2 separate regions of the Homo sapiens genome follow, and region 1 is linked to region 2. The links come from fine-mapping of genetic effects on gene expression. A gene starts in region 2. The other region holds a variant in brackets. All regions are shown on one strand. Distances are between the middles of the regions.

Region 1 (5,526 bases), 140 kb after region 2:
TTTGGTGTGAAAAATGTGACAGGTTTTTTTTTTTTTTTTTTTTTTTGTTTTTTTTTTTGAGACAGAGTCTGGCTGGGTTGCCCAGGCTGGAGTGCAGTGGCACAATCTCGGCTTACTGCAACCTCTGCCTCCTGGATTCAAGCAATTCTCTGCCCATCCTTTTCTTTCCATTCATTTATTGAAAGTTGGATTGAGTGCCAGCCACTGTCTATTGTCTCTAAAAATGTTAAAATTCCCCTACATCATGTCGATCCTATGTTAGTCTACACAGTATGTTTAGCCCCTCTGAGCTCATAAGAAATGAGCTGGTAAAATGAGAGCACGAGCTCCTGGGTATAGAGAGAAAGGAGACTAAAACGTCTGTGAAAATGAAACATTTAATTAAGCTGACTGATTTTAAACTTTTTCAAACATGAAACATATGGCTCTATAAAGCATGGAACAGGAAGCCAAAAAGTGACAAGCTGGTCAAAGTTTGATTTTCTTTCAAATCTACAAACAAGGCATTTAAATGTTAAAATGATTCAGACCCACGACTGGGATGTTCCCTAATTTATTTTTCTCTTTAAATGGTCAGAATACAGGCCAAGTATGGTGGCTCACTCCTGTAATCCCAGAATTTTGGGAGGCTGAGGCAGGCAGATCACTTGAGGCCAGGAGTTCAAGACCAGCCTGACCAACATATGGAAACCCCATCTCTACTAAAAATACAAAATATTAGCTGGGTGTGGTGGCACAAGCCTGTAGTCCCAGCTACGCGGGAGGCTGAAGCAGGAGAATCACTTGAACCTGGGAGGGTGCACTGAGCCAAGATGGCACCACTGCCCTCCAGCCTGGGTGACAGAGTCAGAATGTCTCAAAAAAATAAAATAAAAGGCCAGAATACAGACCTCTTCAGGGCCTCAGGCCATAAGCACTTTCAGAATCCTAAACACAATAAAGCCTCCAGAGCCAGCACTTCACCACCTTGCATGTAGAAGGTACTAAACACACGAGTTGAAATTTATTTAAAAAAAAATGCTGGACATTGTTTTTCCCTGGAATACATGATCACACTTTTTAAGACTCTCTGAATTGCCTATAATTACCGGAAGGCCTCATGTTTCACACTAATAATTCCAGCATTAGTGGGAAGCTCAGAAGACATAAGGAAAGACAGAATTCATTATTAATGAAAGTACTGCCGCCCTCGGAGGAAACATGTGTGTCTAATGCCCAACTGACTTCATCTTTTCGTCAATAAGTCCATGCTCTCTCATCATTGATGGCATCTATTGGTCGGCTCACTGGAGAGGACCACAGCTAATTAACAAACACACTTTGGCCTTAATGAAGCTGCTGTTTCCGGTCTATGATACTACTTCAAGGGTACTACATCAATATAAATTCAGACTTTTCCTGCTTTCTTGATTTTACTCTTATTATAGAACTAAATTCCGATTATTTCTTTTAAAAGATGATTCAATTAAGCTCCCCATATCTAATGAAATGCACACATTCTCACATATTTTATATTTTAACATGAGATGAATTCACTTAAAAGAGTAATTTGTTTTTTGCCTCCTCCTCCTGCTTCTTCTTAACTGGGGGTCTGTGAATGAATTCGTTTTCTAGGCCTGCCATAATAAAGTACTACAGCCTGGGAAGCTTCACCTCCAGAAATTCATTTTCTCACGGGCTGGGACGCTAGAAGTCTGAGATCAAGGTGTTGGCAGGGATCACTCCTTTTGAGGGCTGCGAGGGAAAGAGCTGCTCTAGGCCCCTCGCCTTGGCTTACAATTGCTGTCTTCTTCCTGTGTCTTCGCATTGTGTATTAGTCTGTTCTCACATGCCTAATAAAGACATACCCAAGACTGGGTGATTATAAAGGAAAGAGGTTTAATTGACTCACAGTTTCACATTGCTGGGGAGGCCTCACAATCACGGCAGAGGGCAAGGAGGAGCAAGTTACATCTTACTTGGCAGCAGGGAACAGAGAACTTGTGCAGGGGAGCTCCTCTTTATAAAACCATCACATCTCATAAGACTTATTCACCATCAAGAGAACAGCACAGGAAAGACCGCCCCCATGATTCAATTACCTCCCACTGGGTCCATCCCACATCACATGGGAATTGTGGGAGCTACAGTTCAAGGTGAGATTTGGGTGGGGACACAGCCAAACCATACCACATAGTCTTTCCTCTGTAGGTGTCTGTGCCAAATCTCCTATTCTCATAAAGACACCAGTCATATTAGATCAGGGCCCACCCTAATGACCTCACTTTAATTCCTCTGTAAAGACCCTATCTCCAAATGCAGTCACATTCTGAGGTACTGGGGGTTAGGACTTCAA[T/C]GTATTAATTTAGGGAAGTGGCGGGGAAGGAGGGAGTTGTTAGACCATTCTTGCATTGCTATAAAGGAATACATGAGGCTGGGTAATTTATAAAGAAAAGAGAGTTAATTGGCTCACAGTTCTGCGGGCTGTTTAGGAAGCATGGCACAGGCATCTGCTTGGCTTCTGGGGAAGCCTCAGGGAGCTTTCATTCATGGCAGAGGTGAAGCAGCATGCCACATGGGGAGAGCAAGGGGAGGGAGGAGCCACACGCTTTTCAACAATCAGATCTCATGATAACTCACCATCGTGGGGACAGCACCAAGCCACAAGGAATCTGCCCCCATGACCCAAACACCTTCCACCAGGCCCCACCTCCAACACTGGGGATTACAATCCAACATGAGATCTGGGTGGGACAAACATCCCAACTATAGCAGGGGGACAAAATTCATTGCATAATGATGAAGAGGAGGTGAGATTTCCAAGGAGAGACAATGGAATGCATCGTTAGGGGCACCTTCTCTGGAGTCAGATCATATGTGTCAGACCCTAACCCGCTTCTCACCTATGTAATCTTGGGCAAGTTTTCTTTTCTGCCCTTCGGTTCCCCTTTCTTTAAAATGGGTTCATAATGATACCTTCTGCAGGGAGCTTTTGTGAAGATCAAATAAATGCTTTTTACACGAAAGCCCTCTGTTTATTACAATAATTTCAAGCTTTTCCCTTAAAATGCTTAAAGGGTGCTTATGCATTCCCCTCATAAGGGAAGTGAATAGTGTGTTGACACGCCATAAAAATGTAAAACGTATCTTTATATGTGTGGTGAGGTGAATTGAGATGTCTATTTTAAAATTGTATTTTATAATCACAATTTTCTTTTTTTCTTTTTTGGTGAGACAGAGATTTACTCTTGTTGCCCAGGCTGGAGTGCAATGGCGTGATCTCGGCTCACCGCATCCTCTGCCTCCCAGTTTCAAGCGATTCTCCTGCCTCAGCCTCCCAAGTAGCTGGGATTACAGGCATGTGTCACCAAGCCCGGCTAATTTTGTATTTTTAGTAGAGACAGGGTTTCACCATGTTGCCCAGGCTGATCTTGAACTCCTGACCTCAGGTAATCCGCCCGCCTCGGCCTCCCAAAGTGTTGGGATTACAGGTGTGAGCCATTGCGCCCGGCCCATAATTTTCTTTTATACTCAAAACTTATAATACCCCTTGTGTTAGGGCATGAAATGGATTGTGGGCCATACGTGGCAGATTTCAGTCGAGACTCTACCCTGCCAGCCTTCTCAGCCAACCCCTACCTCTTCTCCCCCATCTGAACCAGAGGCAGCTTTCAATTGTGGGCCTAGTTCTTTCTGAGCAAACCTGGTCCAAGATCAGGTTCTCCAAATTCAGATGCCTGCCTTTATTTTTACAATGAAAACCTAATTCTGGACCAGCGTTATTCTGTACTGGTATATACTAGTAGCTGAGTATTTCTGGAGAAAATCTGATAATCATGTAGGCAGTTTCCATAAAGATATCACAGCATTTAGCCTCTCCTGAGCCCTCTGCACCACTGAATCTTTCTTCATATCCCTGGTCCACACCACATCCCAGACTCATAGGCAGCTCTTCCCAATCTCGACCTCTGCACACAAGCCCTGTACTCAGAGCCTACTACTCATGACAACTCCCTTATCCTTCACCAGGAACATGGTGGTTCTAGCAGCACAAAACTGCTTAATCCCACACACGCTGTAATGGTTAATACTGAGCGTCAACCTGATTGGATTCAAGGATACAAAGTTTTTATCCTGGGCGTGTCTGTGAGGGTGTTGCCAAAGGAGATTAACATTTGAGTCAGTGGGCTAGGAAAGGCAGACCCATCCTTAATCTGGGTGAGCACAATCTAATCAGCTGCTAGCATGGCTAGAATAAAAAGCAGGCAGAAAAATGTGAAGAGAGAGACTGGTCTAGCTTCCCAGCGTACATCTTTCTCCCGTGCTGGATGCCCCCTGCCCTAGAACACTGGACTCCGTGTTCTTCAGTGTTGGGACTCAGACTGGCTCTCCTTGCTCCTCAGCCTGCAGATGGCCTATTGTGGGACCTTGTGATCATGTGAGTTAATACTTAATAAACTCCCCTTTATTTTTATATATATATATATATATATATATTCCATTAGTTCTGTCCCTCTAAAGAACCCTGACCAATACACACACCATGCTGAATCTCTCCTTCAGGCCTTTGCTCTTGCACAGGGAAATACCTCCTCTTTCTCTGGGCTCCTCTGCTTTTGTCTAATATACTTTTACACTTCTTTCAAGACTCAACTCAAGCATCACGTCCCTCTCTCCAAAGCCTTGCTCATTCAGTGTCTGCTATAGTTTGAATGTTTATGTCTCTCCAAAATTCATGTTGAAACCTAGTACCCAATGTGATAGTATTCAGAGGTGAGACCTTTTGGGAAGTGATTAAGTTACGAAAGCTCTGCCCTCACAAATGGGATTAATGTCCTTATAAAGGAGGCTTCAGAGAGCTGCCTGGCACTTTCTCCCCTTCCACTCTCTGCCACATGAGGACACAGCATTTGTTCCTTTCTCCATATGAAGAGGCAGGAAGAAGGTGCCATTTTGGAAGCAGCAAGCAAGCCCTCTCTAGACACTGAATCTGCTGGAGCCTTGATCTTGGACTTCCCAGGCTCCAGAACTATGAGAAATACATTTCAATTATTTATAAATTACCCAGTCTGTGAATGCTTTGGTATAGCAGCAAGAACAAACTAGAAAACATCTCTGTCTTAGCTAAACAGGTATGTATTCCTCCTTGGTGACCCCATCATACCCTCCACACATCTCTAGCACTTTTTCTAATGGAATTGCTATATCATTGATTCATCTCTCCTAACACACTGAGTTCCCTGGGGGCAGAAGCCTCATGTGTTCATTTCTGAACCTCACTGTCCGGCGTAGTACATGCTAACATAGTAGATGCTTCAAGGGGCTTGTCTTCTCCCCAATTATATAGACTACTGAAGTCATTTGTGTGCCCAGCTCCTGAAGAACAAGGCACCAAAGTCATAATAATTTTTGATTTCATCTCCAACAGGATTCTTGGTGTCAAGGAACAAAACCCATCTGTGTTGATTTGAGTATAAAAGGATTTTGCTAAAAGCAATTTGGTAGCTCATTGAATCGGTAAGAAGATCAGAAAGTTGGACTTGACCA
Region 2 (5,000 bases):
TGCAAAGACATTACAGATGGCTTTTGACATTTTCAGATAAACTGAAACCACTCCCTCCAGCCCCTAGGGATAATGAAGTAGCTTCTCAATCACTGAAGTTACTTAGATGACAGGATTTGTGAATAATCTGTAAACTCGGGAAACCTCTGAACTGTCTCCTTAGGACAAATAACATACAATTTAGAAAAAAAAAATCCCTACTTAATACTGCTTTTTACTAAATTCATGCCTACATTAAATTTCAGGATCAAACTTAAGTGAATGATTCAAATCATTCATTAACATACATTAAGTGTTTCAGGACCAAACTTAAGTGAATGATTCAAATCTAACTCTGGCTTTTTAAAATGTACATATGTCTTTTTAAAAACCACACATCACAAATATCTAAACTATCAAAGAATTGCATTATTCGAAATTTCAATAGCCTGATACTAGTGACTCGGTCAGTGCCTGATTTTTTTTAAATAGCAGAAAATATTACCATCAAAAGACCCCTTTCCAAATGCTGCTTCTGCTTTTTTGTTTTGTAAATAACAGCTTTGGAAATGTATGCAAAAATATCTCTAAGTTACACAAGTCGAGCTCAAACACTTTGTGGAGCAAGGTTACTTAACAGGAGTCCCAGAAACAGCTAAAATTGTAGGGAAAATTTTGCGTATGTATATATGGCATTGTTTTTTCTGCGCAGAATGTCCATATAACTCAGTTTCTCAAAAGGCCTCAAAACTCAAGATTAAAAGTGCCTGGAAAGACCATCATCTTTAGAGAACATATCACAGGCAACCCAAGACTTATTTTTTATCCCAAGTTAGGGGAGGATTTATCCTAATTTTGTGGCTCCTACACAACTTCTGAGCGACGCAAGCATGAAATGGCTGTCCGATACAAACAGACCCCTTCAGATACGGAATGCAGCAAACCCCTAATTTTCCTTGAAGGGGCCACGGAAAGCCAAACGGATTCGTAACCCGGTTGCTCAATGGTCCATTGGCTACTGCAGGACGCGCCCTCCTCTTACGCCGCAGGGGCTGCGGGGCGGCGACCAGGTTCCTCCGAGGGGCTGAAGTTCCCTTGGGGGTGGCTGAGAGCGGCCGCATCTCTGGCAGCATCCTCCCTCCCGAAAACGCGCCCTAAAAGTAGCGGCTGCGGGCGTGGGCACAGCCAACCCCAGCCTGCGCCTACCAGAAGTCGGGAGGGCGCGGAACTGCGGCCCCTCCGAGACGCGCCCGGGCCGCCGCCGCAGCACTGTCGCAGCGACCTTCCCGCCCGGGTCCCCGCGAGCAAACGGGCAAGCCCCGTTATCACGCAGGTCACACACCCCACGAGTAAAAGGAAAAAACCGGGCAGACAATAAAGCCCAACCCGCGGGGGCCCAAGCGAGCTGGAAGTTGGGGGCGCTGGGGCTGCAGCCCAAGGAGGAGCGGCGGGGACGACGGGATGCGGGGCTGATGCGCCTGGGACGCGGCAAGCCATATGTCAGCCCGGGTGCTGACAGCGGGGAGGACACTGGGCACGCGGCGGCGTCGGGGAGGCGGCCGGGGTAAGACAGGCCTGAGGCGGGAGGGGAGCGGCGGCGAGGTCCCGAGGCGCCGCGGTCGGCCGTGACCCCCACCCCAGCCGGGGCGCTGTCCCGTTCCTTACCGGCAGGGAAGCTGCGGGCTCCGCCGGGGCTATCCCGGCCGCTGGCCTCCGGAGCCAGGAAGCGCCCCCACATCGCGGGCGAGAGGGCCGGGTGGGCCAGGGACGCCCGACTCCTCACGTCCGTCCTCCTGCTTCTTCGGCGGCGGAAACTTGCGCGGAGCGTGGGCCTCGGCGACACGGGCAGGAGGAAAGGCGGGATGGCTGGTTAACGGCTGCTCAGCTACGGGCGGGGAGCGCAGGGGCCAGATTCGCCGCACTGCCGGCGCCTGCCATGGCCAAGCCGGCTGGGCTGAGGCCCGCGCCGGGGAAGCGGCGACTCGGCGGTGACGGCTGCTAGATCCCCGGCTGAGCCCAGGCTCAAAGGCTCCAGGCGAAGTTGCAGCTGCGGGTTCTCTCCGCCCCCTCCGCCGGCAGAGCCAGAGCCGGGGCTGGGGCCGCGAGGGGGCGGGGCCTCGGGCAATGACTTCAGGCGTGCGCGGCGCCGCGCGGGGCGGGGACTGCGGGGGGCGGGGACTGCGGGGGGCGGGTGAGCTACCCCGACCCCGCTTCGCCTCCTTGGCGGCGACTGGGCTGTCCCGCCCTCCCGCCGCATCCCTCTGTCTCCATCCTCCCGCCCTGCGAGTTGAGTAGAGGGCAGCGACTTGGCCTATTTTGCGATACTCGCCCCTCCCTTGGGTAATCCCTCACGCCCTCCCTCCGGGCACCTCTGTGAAGACACGTGGAAGACCTGCCCCTGGCGTCACAACCGCTCGAGATGAAAAAGCCAAGCCAGGGCGCGGCTGAGGGGGCTTCCAGCCTCCCTTGGAATTAGGATTGGGATTTAAATCCTCATCTGTATTCCTTCGTTTATAGATTACTTTAGGGGCAGAAAAGGGGTGGTTTTCCTTTACTAATTTAATGGGGGCGTGGGGGCAACACAGGCACCAGAATATAGCACCGGGATGTGCACCGGAAAAGGCCCGGGGGTAATTAGTACCCGAGGGGGAGAGGGGCCGTCATTGTAATCGCACAACGTTTCAGATTAGCAAGCAGAAAGTAAAAATGGCACCAAAGTCTGTAAAGGGAGCCCTTTCCTCCTTGCCCCCTACTCCTTCACGTTCTTCCTCTTCTTGGCCAGTTTCCACCCTTCACCTGAACCCTTAGTGCAGGAGGAGACGTCCTAAGGAAGGGCGAAAAGGGACAGCATCGTTTTATTTTTAAATCTTACTTCTCACTGGCAATATGGTGATGCTTCCAACGTTTAGTTACGAACTAGTTCGTATAAAAAATTCTGGGCCAGCACTGTGGTGGGAGGCGGGCTCTGCAGTAGGCCCATCACTCAGAGGTAAGTCGGAACGCAGGTCGCTTAACTAGAGAGGCTTTGAGTTCCGCTTTTCCTGTTCTGGAATCTTGCTAACAAAGGCCTCATATTTGCATTTTTCCCTTAAAGACATTTTAATTGGGAAATACTACTTAAAATTCTTGGAAGTTAAATTAGATTTAGGTGTGTGTTCTATCACTTACCACATCCGTGTTGTAATTTATCTGATTGGAGTTTTACATTTAGTCTCCCTGTGGTAGACTTCCAATTATTTCTCCAAATCATGTAATGTTAGCCAAGGGTCAGCTGTTTCTGATGATAAAAAGATACAGAAACATGAAAGACGAATGTGATTGGTTCCTTTTTATTATTTTAATGTGCACTAGCTCGTTTTATCTAACACTTGAAGAGGATAGATTTTTTTAAGTCCCAAAAAGAAAATTAGCAGAAGCTATAGCACTATGTATAGATTTTTTTTTCATGCTTTGTAGTTACCACAGTCTCAGGAACAGAATTTTTGAAATTCATTTGTGATGCAGTTCTAAGAAGTGTATAAAATATTACAGAAATATCTTGGCCTTTGCGAGTTTAAAATACACTTATTATTTCAAAACTGCCAATTTCCTAATTCTAAACAGTGTTTAAAGAAAATCGTTTACTCGGGTTTTCTACATCTTTTTATCAATATAAAGGGCATGCTACTACACACAAAAAAAGTACATGCGAAGGTGAAAGTATCTAAAATATTTCAATATCTATTACAGAGTAAAAGCAAACAGTAAAAACATGTTGCTCTTTTGGCACTTGGCACCAAATATGAAATTTTTGTGTCCCTAGTAATTAAACTTGGGAGGATAGAGGGCTAATGCAATTAGAACTAATTGAAATACTAAGTGAGAATATTATGTTGCTAAAGTATCCATTTCTTTTAATCATATGAATTCTGAGTATATACTGAACTAATGCTTCCCCCCAAATCCATGATACATGGATGATATGTACATGGTATGATACAGCCATGGTTTTCAGAATGATTAAAATTTATCATAACACAAGTTGGAGAACCTAAGGACTATCTAACCATTACTAAACCCCATGTGGTAAACTGCCATATTTTTGTTTTGTTGTGACAGTGTGTTAGGACTACAAGGAGAATTTTAAAAGCAAAGACAGTTATCGTTGAACCTCAATAAACCTCAATCTTGGCAGTTGTTCTGTGCAGATATAAGTAATGAAAATAGTGACTCTGTGTATGTGTGTGTGTGTGTGTGTGTGTGTGTATAAGTATCATTGCTCAGATGAAATTAGGATATTTAATGTTTTGGGAGGGGACTTTTTAAGAATATAAACTAGATCACAAAAGAAGAAAATAGTACTAAAAATGCCACATTTAATACCAAACTATATTAAACTATTTGTTTAAAATGTCTCATTTCAAAAAAAGACATTATTTAAAACTGAAAAATAAGTGTTGCATTTATAATTCTTAAATTTGTATATAAATCTTTGAACTGATTAAGTTGAGCTATCTTACATGTGTTTTTCTGATTCAAATTTATCAGATTGTGCAAACATCATCTACAGAACTGAAGAGGGATATGACAATGAATAAAAGTGATATTTTTAAATTAGAAGAGCCAGGTGCAGTCACTCATGCCTGTAATCCAGTGCTTTGAGAGACCAAGGCAGGAGAATCACTTAAGCCCAGGAGTTGGAGGCTGTAGTGAGCTGTAATGATTGTGCCACCGCACTCAAGCCTGGGCAACAGAGCAAAACCCTGCCTCTAAAAAATAAATAAAATGAGAAGGAAACCCCATGCATAATATGAGGAAAGCTCAAGAGAGCTTTATATTTACAAAAATATAAAATATATAAATAGCAAAAGAACCCAACAATATGTAGGAAAAGTAAACCAACCAATAACAATTGAAATAGTTCCTAAAGAACTATTGCTACTACATAGAAAGAGATTTATGAATGAATTCTAAAAGATTCCAAGGACTAGACAATTCTTGTATATCAAGTGTGTATCAAGGACCATGCTATACAACCTCTT

The links.
Region 1: its variant is fine-mapped to the expression of CEP85L in monocytes after LPS (Quach 2016, PIP 0.95).

Annotation. Positions count from the first base shown.
Region 1 is chr6:118,789,819-118,795,344 of GRCh38, forward strand. No RefSeq gene overlaps it. Among named protein-coding and RNA genes, the nearest start is that of ASF1A, 100 kb to the right of the region's middle. The variant T/C (reference allele first, on the strand shown) is at 2,336.
Region 2 is chr6:118,649,553-118,654,552 of GRCh38, forward strand. It overlaps CEP85L (centrosomal protein 85L), which reads right to left and starts at 2,039. Exons shown (of 13, transcript NM_001042475.3): 1 at 1,645-2,039. The coding sequence starts at 1,717. RefSeq lists silencers at 1,423-1,732, 1,933-2,392.